2 linked regions of the Homo sapiens genome follow. The protein of the gene in region 1 interacts with the protein of each later gene in a pairwise test. Each region holds a gene or a part of one and is shown on either strand. Other genes may lie near its edges.

Region 1 (4,763 bases):
CCATTAAAAATCAGAAAATTGTGGTTTAACATCTACAGAGAATTAAAGAAAATGATGTATGAGGTAAGAATTTTATATCTAGGCAATTACCGTTTTGACCTAGACCTCTGGTCTCTTTTTTAAAAAACATAAAATTGTTCTATGATGAAATAACAAAATCATAATCAAAGTAAGAATCCAGAAACAGAGAAGGTGTGTGAAATAAAAGAACAGGCCCTAAACAGAGAACCCCTTTAAATCTGAAACTAGTCCTAAGACCAAACAGCAGTGGGAATTATACGGACAGAATAGAGTCAGAATATAATAAACTATGTCATTACCACCATTGGAAGGAGGATAATACAGAAGAAATGGAAAGAAGCACAGATACATAAATTCCCTCATTTGTCATCATCAGGAGTTAACAGGCAGCATCTAAAATTAGTAAATCAAGGCCGGGTGCAGTGGCTCACACCTGTAATTCCAGAACTTTGGGTGGCTGAGGCGGGTGGATCACTTGAGGCCAGGAGTTCGAGATCAGCCTGGGCAAAATGGTGAAACCCCGTCTCTACTAAAAAGACAAAAATTAGCTAGGTATGGTGGTGCACACCTGTAATCCCAGCTACTCGGGAGGCTGAGGGAGGAAAATCGCTTGAACCTGGGAGGTGGAGGTTGCAGTGAGCCGAGATCCTCCACTGTACTCCAGCCTGGGTGACAGAGCGAGACTGTCTCAAAAAAACAAAAAAAAAAAAAAAAAACTTGATAAATCAAGAAATAGAGAATTCCTATATATTTAAATTTATGTAGGAAACCACTGGAGAATTAACATGACCATAAACCTTTTAAATGACCAGAAAGAGGGACACACACATGCATACAGAAGAAAGAAAACCAAGTTCAGTGTCACGTTCATAGGCATGGCCTTAAACAATGTACTCAGGAATGTTAAAATAAAAAGATGGGCAAAGAAAAACCAGGTACATACAAACAAAAGTAAAACGGACTTCTTAACATGAGCATCAAGAAGTTGGCATTCAAGGAAGAGGTGTCAAACAATTTAGGAGGCTCTCTGAAAATTATATGGTCCTTCTTTGCTGTCACATTGCATCAATGACTGCTGGCCTCCAAAGTCTGCGCAGTAAGCCCCAAAGATCTTCTCATTAACCCCATGCCTGCATCATGCAGACATCCTGGGAACCAGTGGGACAGGAGGCAGCAAAGCCCAACTGGCCTTTATGGCTCTGGGTCTCCACTTCAGGTTGAATTGTGCCCTCCTCCCAATTCCTGTGTTGAGATCCTAACCCCCAGTAGCTCAGAATGTGACCTTATTTAAAAATAGGATCTTTGCAGATGTAATTAGTTAAAATAAAGTCATCGTGGAGTGAGATGGACCTAATCCAGGATGGCCAGTATCGTTGCAAACTGGGGAAATTTGGAAAGAGAGACACAGGGAGAAGGCTCTGTGAAGATGGAGTTATGCTTGCACAGCCAAGGCACTGCCAGAAGTGGAGAGAGAGCCTTCCCTAATGCCTTCAGAGGATCCATGACCCTGCTGATACCCTGATCTTGGACTTCTGGCCCCCAGAACTAGGAATCAGTAAACTTCTGTTGTTCTAAGCCTCCCAGCATGTGTTACTTTATTATGGCAACCCTAGCAAACTGGTACAGTCCCCAGTGTTCTGCACATCTTTGTGACTAATTCCCCAACTGTACCCCTCTTGCTAGAGGAAGTATCTCACACTGCTGTGTTTCTCTTGGTGCTGTCTCTCGACTGCTTCTTCCTTACACCCACCATCCCCATGAGGGTAGGGATTTGCATCTGCTTTGTTCATGAATCTCTCCTCCGCACAGGCGGGCCCCACGATCAGACGATGCTCTTAGTGGCAGCATGATGGCATTCAGGAGGATTAACATGCACAGATGTTTGGGACTGGAGAAGTGAGGTTCAGCAAGTAGGAAGAAGAGAGGGCACCATTTAAACAGCAGATCCACCATGCGTCTTTATTCACATAGCACCAAGTAACACAGTAGCACAACATATGGAAAGAAAGTAACAGGCAACACAAAGAGAAATCCACCAGAGTCCAGAGCATACTCGTGCCAGCGGATTCCAAGACCCATCTGTGACAAACTGGTGGGCAGAACTATGTGCAGTCACTGTAGTGAGTACAGGAACTTCATAGCCCTCCTCACACCCAAGATGGCCCTATGCAAGTCAAGATGCCGTGGTGGGTAGCCCGGATGACTGTGGGATGACATGGGAAACTGGGAAAGAATGTATTGCATGCCTCAGAAGAATGGACTGTCTGACTTGGGAGCCTACCTTAGCAAGTTTTCCCTTTACTGATCATTTTCTCTTCATTTTCAGATTGTGGCCAAGAAGTACAGAGATTTTGAATTTCCTTCTGAAATGACTGGCATCTGGAGATACTTGAATAATGCTTATGCTAGAGATGAGTTCACAAATACGTGTCCAGCTGATCAAGAGATTGAACACGCATATTCAGATGTTGCAAAAAGAATGAAATGAAGCTGGGCTGTTTTCTGTCTTATTTCTCAGTTGAGTGAGCAAGGATACGAAAACAGTGTGTTTGAAAACAAATTAGGTTTGGGTTCAATTCCTTCAATTTTTAAAAAACTGGTCTCTGAGAGTTTTTTAAATCATTGAGAGCCTGTTTTTCTTCTCTAAAACATTAGTTTAATTTTCTTCAAAATGAAAATACTGCTTTGTAATTACAAAATGAGACACACCTATCTTGATATTTTAAAGCAATATCAGAGGGTGTAAAGAAGGACATTTTAACAATCGCCTTCAATTTTACTCCACTTAATTACCGAAAACTTACTGGAGAACATGTTCCAAATCTTCAGTATCTTGTTCTCTCTCTCTCTCTCTCTCTCTCTCTCTATCACACACACACACACACACACACACACACACACACACAATTTCATTCATATATGGTATTGCATTATTTTATTTTAAAGCACTGGTGAGGGGACCTCTTGGTGATTCCTGGATGATCATACACAGAGGACTTACACCATACAAAAATATTGGGCACCGCAGTGCCAGAGAAGATGCTTGAGGTTAGATTTTAAGGAGTGGGGAATTGTGAAGCCCACAGATGCGCACGCAATGACCAGCAGGAACCGGAAGCCCTGGGTCACCCCCACTCTGCCTCATTTCTGCCTCCAGGATGCCACTGCCTCTGCTTCCAGGAAAGGCAAGGGGGAGGGTGCTTATCCGTGTCTCTGGTTCCAGCTTCCTGTCTTTGCTCCCTCCCCTCTCTTAGAGACTGTGCCTTCAGCAGGACTCTTAATATCTGCTGCAACTTGGAGAACCTCCCTGCCCTGAAATGTGAACCAAGCACACTTTGGTTCCTTCTCCGGGCGGCTCTCTCTGAGACCCAAGGCTGCAGTCCCTCAGTGCTGGTGGTATCGTGTGGGGATAGCAATACTTCTCTGCCCTTCATTGTCTCATCTAGACATCAAGCAGGGAAAATCCAGGGAGATTAAATTCATGGTGACAAGTCCTGGGCAGTTCTGGTAAACGGTCCAGTTAGGGAGGGAGTAGAAACTATTGACTCAAAAGAGTTTCTGGCTGATCTGTGGCTTTGCCTCCACCATCCCTAACCAACCTCTCATCACAGCTTTGTGTGTGGGCTGAGTGCTGGCCTTAACCCTAGGCGTGGAAGAGAAAATGTGAGGTTGTTTAGATACTCATCAGGACCTCACAGGAGCTGAGACTTATCAGCCAGAATGTGTTCTTCGGACAGTCGTACACATCTTACAGAAAACCCTCCTTGTAGAGTTGGTTGTGGTATGTGTTTGATGCTATAAAGCTCATTTTTAATGTGTACACCTGCTCTAGGGACGATTCGTTTGAAAGAGAGTAAGATGCATTAACAGAAACTATCCTGGGATTAGGTGAAAAATGTCTAGCAAAAGAAACAAAGTCTTTAATAGAGTGGCCTCTTTCGCTCTTCGATTATGACTGCTGCAGTTTTACCCCAGCAGTCAGCTGTCTTTGTCAACCATACGTTTTTGGAGATTGGGTCTAGCACATGTCACCCTTGTCCACGTTGTTTCACATCTGGTTAGGGGGCAGATTTTAAAATGTAGTTTTGTAATGTTACATTTAAGCATGATAAATGATTAGACTACCAGATGTTACTAGTGCTAACTTTGTATTCTTAGACATTAAAATGATTGACATAAACTCTTTGTGCCTTGAAAATGAAACAAATTATAAAAATGTTTAAATGGAACCAATTTCTTTTGGGTTTTATTTTTTATTTTTTATTATTTTTTGCATTCCCCATTCTCCATTTAGGTTTCAAGAAATAAAATGAATGGTATGGGCTTCTTTTAAAATGGTGAGGACAGGCCTGGCATACCGGCATAGTGGCTCATGTCTGTAATCCCAGCACTTTGGGAGGCCGAGACAGGCAGATCACCTGAGGTCAGGAGTTCAAGACCAGCCTGGCCAACCTGGTGAAACCCCATCTCTACTAAAAATACAAAAATTAGCTAGGCATGGTGGTGGGCACCTGTAGTCCTAGCTACTAGGGAGGCTGAGGTGGGAGGATACCTCGAGCCTGGGAGGTGGAGGTTGCAGTGACCTGAGATCACACCACTGCACTCTAGCCTGGGCAACAGAGTGAGACCCTGTCTCAAAATGAAATGAAATGAAATGAAATGAAATGAAATGAAATGAAATGAAATGAAAAACAAAATAAAATAAAATAAAATAAAATAAAATAAAATAAAATAAAATAAAA
Region 2 (7,033 bases), on another chromosome or scaffold:
CTCAGCCTCCCAAGTATCTGGGATTACAGGCATATGCCACCACACCTGGCTAATTGTTGCATTTTTAGTAGAGATGGGGTTTCACCATGTTGGCCAGGCTGGTCTTGAACTCCTGGCCTCGTGATCTGCCTGCCTCGGCCTCCCAAAGTGCTAGGATTACAGGCGTGAGCCACCGTGCTCGGCCTGTTTCCTATTTTGTAAAGTGAGAAGAGTAGCATGGACTCCCAGGGTTACCAAGAGTATTCACTGGGTCTGTGTCAGCAATGCACCAGGCACAGTGTCTAGACTGTGCTGCCTACTCCCCATTTTGAGGTGCAGAGCTGGGCCAAGAAATGAGTGACTACACAATTCTTCCTAACAAAAGGGCTACAGCACAGTCCATGGCAGCCTCTACCTGCAGGTCCTGGACAGGGCCCCAGGATAAGCTGTGGGAAGGAGAGGGGATATGGGGAGCATAAAGCAGCAGACCCATTTCTGAAGTGGGGAGATGGGAGTGAAGGTTTCAGGGGCCTGGGAGCATAAACATGCCCCTCCTTGGGGATCCTTGCCGGTTACTCCTATTTCCAATATGACCTAAGGAACTAACTCTGAGGCCAGAATTCCAGCTTGGACTTGCCAGCCGTGTGATGCTGCAGCAGTTACTTAACATCTCTGACCACCTGGTTTATCAACTGCAAAATGGTGGCAATAATGCCAGCCTCTAAGCTGCTGTGAGGGTTATATAGGAAAATGCTATATTTAAAGTCCCTACGTGAGGCCCAGCACTTAGTAAGCACTTTACAAATGGTAGTTGGGATTATTAAGGAAACAATCTACCCATTTCGTAAGGAGAAAAAGTAAGCCCAGAGTGAAGGAAAAACCACCTGGGGAAGCACCAGGAAACTCATTGGTAAAAGCCAGTGGGGAGCTAGAGTCCCCAGTGTCCAGTGCAGGGCCCTGCTGGAGAAAGTGCTGGAGCAAGCAGGGGGCCCACCTACCTCCAGGTAGACAACCCAGGGCATGACCAGTGTGGCGACGAGGAGGTCGGCCACTGCGAGGCTGACGATCAGGTAGTTGGTGGTGGTCTGCAGCGCCTTCTCGCGGGACACAGCCATGCACACCAGCACGTTGCCGAAGACGATGACAGCGATGAGCAGGGTGAGCAGTGTGGCATAGTAGTTGTAGTGGGGTCTGTCCGCCTTCCCGTCTGACCCGTTGAAGGGCCGGCTCCAGTTCTGCCTCTCCAGATCATCATCATACCAGGACAGATTCAGTGGATCCATCAGGGCGGTGGAGCCACTGGGTGGCCAGGCTCTGGCCAGGAAAAATGGACACAAGGTGTCAGTGAGAGGGCCTCTTGCAGAGGTCTCCAGGAAGAAGACCAACTCCTGGCATTTAATAATGAGAATTTTCCAACTCGGGATTTTAAGGTTTACGGCTAAGAATTTTCTAAAAATGTTGGGCCTTCTGCCACTCTTTTGCTAGCAAGTTTTTACAGCTGGTAGGACAAATGAGCAAACACAATTTTTTAAAAATGCATAATAAGATGAGCTTGAACAGAGCTGATCCATCATTTATTTATTCATTCAACAAACACTTCTTAAGCACGACCCATGCACCACACACTTCAGTTAACCAGGCTTGCTACCTTCTAGTCATCGAAACAGAAATGGGTATTCATTCATTCTTGATTCTATAAATATTTATTAAGCATTGTTCTATATAGTTCTAGAAATATAGGCAGGAACAAAATATACATGGTTCTGTAGCTCACATTCTAGGAGAAACAACAGCCAATTAATCAAGCAATTACATCTAAGGGTGATAGGGAGTAGGAAATGGAACAGGGAGAGAGATACATAACCTAGTTCAGGTATTCAGGGAAGGCTTTCTAGAGGAAGTGATGTTCAACAGACAAACAACTGAAGGATGTGTAGGAATTAGCCAGGTAAAGAACTAGGAGTCAGCAGAAGGTCTAGACATTGGAAGCAGTATATGCAAAGCACAGAGGTAGAGAGGTAGACAGCAGGTGGAGGGCCTCAAAGAGATTCTGGATAGCTGATGCAGAGGGACCTGGCAAGGGTTGAGTCTGGGGAGGTTGCAATAGGCAAGATCATAGAGGGCCTTAAAAGTCATGCTAGGAGTTTATACATGATCCTAAGGGCAGCAGGAACCACATGATCAGATTCGCCTTTCGAATAGGTGATTCTGACAGCACTGTGGAGAACGGAGAGGAGGGGCCCAGAGTGGAAGCGGGACACCAACTGGGAGGCTGTAGCAGGAATCCAGGTAAGAGATGATGAGGTTTGGCAGGATGCAGGGAGTGAAAGCCCTGCAGAATGGGCATCTCATCCCACAGAAGGGAAAGACTTCCTGAAGTGGGTATCATCTGGGATGAAGTAGAAGGAGGACTTAGCCTGCTAAATGAGAGGGGTGGGGGGATGTTCCAGACAGACAATATGACATGGTATCAAATCATCAAACAGCAAACAATTCTGTTTGGCCAAAAATGTAGGGTATGGCAGTAACGTTGAGGATAATTAAACTGCAGGGACATTTACAGGCCAGATTGTGTCTTGTCAGCTGGAGAGTCCCTGAGAGGTTGGGCCCAGAGACATGACCCTATTGGACTGGTGTTCTAGAAAGTGTATGGTGTAGAAGAGAGCTCAGAGGAGAGTGATGTTTTGGCTGTAATTTAGGTTAGAAATTGTGGTCATCTGAACGAAGATAGTGGAAACGAGGATGGAGAGACCTGTTCAGAATTAGGAGCTAAACTGCAAGTCAATTTCATGGTCCTTGGTCCTTGGATAGGTGTGGGGCAAAAGTGGGTATGGGACAAGCAGGGAGATAAGGAGTTGAGGGTAATGCTAGGATTTCTGCGTGGGGCTCTGGGAGGCTGGTGTCGCATATTCACAGAGAAAAGGGACCAGAGGGGCTCAGGAGCAGACTTGGGAGGCATCAGGAGTTGATGAACTTGACAGCCGGAGTTTTGGTTGTGACTGAAGCATAATGCATGGATAATATAGTTGGCTTTTCAGCTAACAAAAGTCTTCCTCTTTTACAGAATAGAATTAAACTTATCAGCATTCCAAGGTGTTTCATACAAAGCACATGACTTCCAGGTACTTTGCTACTGCAAATTGAAAACCACCAATTGATGCCATTTGGGATGAATGTGGTGCCATGTCCAATCAATGAACAGGGCACACCTCCAGCAATGGGTCAGAGAGGATGGTGGAAGAGGGTCTGCCCAATCTCCACACTCTCATCCCTGTCTGACACACCCACTCTTCCAGCTTTAGTAGAAGAATATGGATCATGTCCTACCAACCACCATCACTCTGGAGCCTCGGGGAAAAGCAAAGTGCCTAATTCCATGTGGGGTGACATGGAATGCCACCACGCAGCAAATCTTCCTGTTCTAAGGTAATGAAGCATATGTCATATTGATGCTGTATTCTGCAAAACCAACTGAGCCCTCTTCCCATTTGGAGCCCACAGCGGGAGGCCTGCATGTATGTATTGATCAGGTGCCTGGGGCTGCTTCTGACATTCATTTACTCAATCGGCATTTATTGAACCTGCTGGGCATAAAGCACTGTGCAAAGCAGTGTCAGGGGCCTGAGGCGTGTGAGGCACACTTACTGCCCCCATCCTGACCATCGCTCTCTTCTTCTCCCCCCACTCCCTGCTGCTGATGATAGCATCATATACTTGTAAAGGGTTTGATAGTTTGCTAAGTTTTTTGGATATACTGTCTCATTTATCCTCAAAACAACCCTCGGAGGCTTTTAATTATTATCCCTGTCTATGGCCATACTACCTGGAACATGCTTGATCTTGTCTAATTATTATCCCTACTTTAATAAGAAAGGGATTTGGAAAACTCTTCTGTTCACTTCCCTTCCCTCTGCTTTTCCAGTCCCTATGCATCCTTCAAAGTGAGTCTTGCCTAGAATCCTCCTGTCTTAGAATCCACCCATATCCTCCTGCCTGAGCCATCACCCACCCTCCTCAGGGTCCTGCAGCACTGAAACACACCCCAGTGCTGCAGGAGACACCTGTTTAGGAGTCTCTTTTTTTCACTGGGGTGTAGACATCACAAGAGTTACAACATGTCTTGCTCATTCCTCCTCTTGTTCTTGGAATGAACAAATAAAAACCATACTATCTTGTTCTTTCCCAACTCTTGACTCTGGTTTGTGGGCAGTACGTATTCAACAGATGTTTGCTGAACTGAATCAAAGGCTCTGTTAGTGCAACTGGGAAGAAAACCCCTTCCCACTTGAAAGGCACCTGCTAACATAGGCTACCAGATTAACAAGTGATGAAAAAGTAAGGCACCCCAAGGGTGCCATAGGTGCTGCATGTTGGGTCCTGTTACAGTCTGCACTATGCTCTTCCCCCAACCCACAAAATGTATATGTTGAAGTCCTAACCCCCAGTACCTCAGAATGTGACTGTATTAGGATACAGGGCCTTTAAAGAGTTGATTATGTTAAAATGAGACGCTTAGGGTGGGCCCTAACCCAATCTGACTGGAGTCCTTATAAGAGGAGCTTTGGACATAAAAAGAGACATCAGGGATGCGCGCACAGAGGAGAGACCAAGTGGGAATGCAGCAAGAAGGCGGCCATCTGCTAGCCATGGAGAGAGGCCTTAAGCAAAATCAGCCCTGTTGACACCTTGATCTGGGACGTCCCAGCCTCCAGAACTATGAGGAAACAGATTTCTGTTGTTCAATCCACCCAATCTGTGGAATTTTGTCATAGCAGCCAGAGCAGACTAATACAGGTCCCTAGAAGTAGACTCTGAAGAGGAAATCAGCCTGCAGGAAATGTACAGGGGAATGCTCTCAGGATCAAGATGTGCAAAGAAGTGAGGAAGCAGGACAGGCCAGAGGGAGAAGTCACAAGAAAGGCATCAGGTGACCCCACAGGGCACCCTGCCAGTTGCCTAAATGAGGGCAACAGGGTAGGGCCTTTAATCCCCTCTCATAGATGTCACAGCTTCTGGCTGTCCCAGGGAAAGCAGCGAGGCCTTGAAAGAGGCATCTCTCCTCAGCAGTGGGCAATTGCCAAAAACTGTCAGTTGCCAACACTCCCAGTAGATGGGGATGAGGGCTGTGGTCCTGCAGGGGGATCTGGGTGGCACTCCACCGTGTCCACTACAGTTGATGTTCAGGAGCATATGCACATGTGTGTGGCTGGGGCGTTTGTGGAGAACTTCCTGGAGGAGGGAGGATGTAAACTGGGATTTAATTTTTTTTTAATAGAGACAGAATCCCACTTTGCCACCCAGGCTGGAGTGCAGTGGCACAATCATAGCTCACTGCAGCCTCAACTCCTGGCCTCAAGTGATCCTACCACCTCAGCCTCCTGAGTAGCTGGAAATACAGGCATGTGCCACCATGCCTGGCTAATTTTTAAAAATGTTTTGTAGAGATGGGGGTCTCACTATGTTGCCCAGGCTGGTCTCACACTCCTGGCCTCAAGAGATACTCCTGCCTTGGCCTCCCAAAGTGCTGGGATTACAGGCACTAGTCTAGGATTTAAAATTATGAGTACAATGTAGATGGCAAATGTGAGCACTGCAGGTCAGGTGGGGTTGAGGGTGAGCATTCATTCTCTGGAGTGCTGGTTACTTCTGCAGGGTAAGGGAGAGTCCCTGTACCCAAGTTCTGAGAAAGGCCTCACACATTTGATTTTCTAATCTATTATTTATTATTGGTTGTTCTCGTTGCTTTTTGTTGCTAATACAAACGTAGTATATTTACACCATAGGAAAAAAAAGGGAAAACATGGCAAATGCCTAAATACCTGTAACCCCTATAAGTACCTTGGTACAGGGCTATCTTTTTGTCTGTTTGCTTGTTTGGGGGTTTTTTTGTTATTGAGATGGAGTCTTGCTCTGTCACCCGGGCTGGAGTGCAGTGGGGCTATCTCGGCTCACTGCAAGCTCCGCCTCCTGGATTCACGCCATTCTCCTGCCTCAGCCTCCCGAGTAGCCAGGACTACAGGTGCCCGCCACCATGTCCAGCTAATTTTTTTGTATTTTTAGTAGAGACGGGGTTTCACCGTGTTAGTCAGGATGGTCTCGATCTCCTGACCTCATTATCTGCCTGCCTCGGCCTCCCAGAGTGCTGGGATTACAGGCGTGAGCCACCGCACCCGGCCAGTACAGGGCTATCTTTTAACACCTGGTGTCAGTCCTGGTTTCTATCGTGTCTTCAGCACCTTATCTACTTGGGGCTTTCACCTCTCACAAGCAGGGGCAGCCTAGCTGGCTCTCACCATGTAAACATCAAGCTGAGCAGGAATTCAGACATCAGCAAATCCACTGCCACAGAGAAGGTACTCTAGCCTGAGAGGTGCTAGTATAACATTCGAGTTGAGGACTAAAAAACCTGGGTTCAAGTCCCAACTCTACCATTTACTAACTTTGGGGCCTCAGCCAGATTATTTGGCTTTCCTGAGCCCAGTTTTCCCATACACAAAATAGAGATAACAACAATTGTGAGTATTAAGTAAGATGACTCATGGCCATGTGCCAGGCACAGGTAAGCCCTTGAGAATGTCAACTTTAAAAATCAAACCAAGCAAAAGAATGAAATGAAACAAGCAATCAGACCACAAGCCAACGGCTCAGCAAGATGAAGTGACTGTTGCTGTTCAAATGCAGCTCACTAGGGTCTGAGGTCCTCCTGGGCCCACTGCCTCCTATGGCCCATCCTGAAAAATAGGTGGCTAGATGAAGGGAGATGGATTTCAAGATGCAGCCACCAACTCCTTGGGAGGAAGTAAAGGAAGGAAAAGACAAAGCCTGTCCCTGGGCCCTGGCTGTAGGACAAACTCAAGTGACCCTTGAGATGAGGTAGCAGCTGGCCTGGAAGATACAGCTCTCCCAGCCCAGCTGCTATAGCCGATGACTGTCATACTAATCACCACATTTCATAGACTCTAAGACAAAATCGAATGAAGATGCACCACTATTTTATATATCACTAGGAAAGAAAAAAATGCCATCCAACCCCAGTAGAGCTCCAAGATGTCAT

What was found. Proteins that work in one complex are often made in the same cells at the same time.
Region 2: the proteins of CLIC6 (region 1) and DRD2 interact in a two-hybrid assay, tested with the Homo sapiens proteins (one study listed by BioGRID).

The regions. Positions count from the first base shown.
Region 1 is NC_000021.9:34,713,974-34,718,736, forward strand, and holds the end of CLIC6 (chloride intracellular channel protein 6), read left to right. Parts: intron 1-2,347; coding exon 2,348-2,509; 3' UTR 2,510-4,250; downstream 4,251-4,763. UniProt on the Homo sapiens protein: In the soluble state, catalyzes glutaredoxin-like thiol disulfide exchange reactions with reduced glutathione as electron donor. Can insert into membranes and form voltage-dependent chloride-selective channels.
Region 2 is NC_000011.10:113,423,390-113,430,422, forward strand, and holds part of DRD2 (D(2) dopamine receptor), read right to left. Parts: intron 1,294-7,033; 5' UTR 1,263-1,293; coding exon 978-1,262; coding exon of another isoform or gene 974-977; intron 1-973. UniProt on the Homo sapiens protein: Dopamine receptor whose activity is mediated by G proteins which inhibit adenylyl cyclase. Positively regulates postnatal regression of retinal hyaloid vessels via suppression of VEGFR2/KDR activity, downstream of OPN5.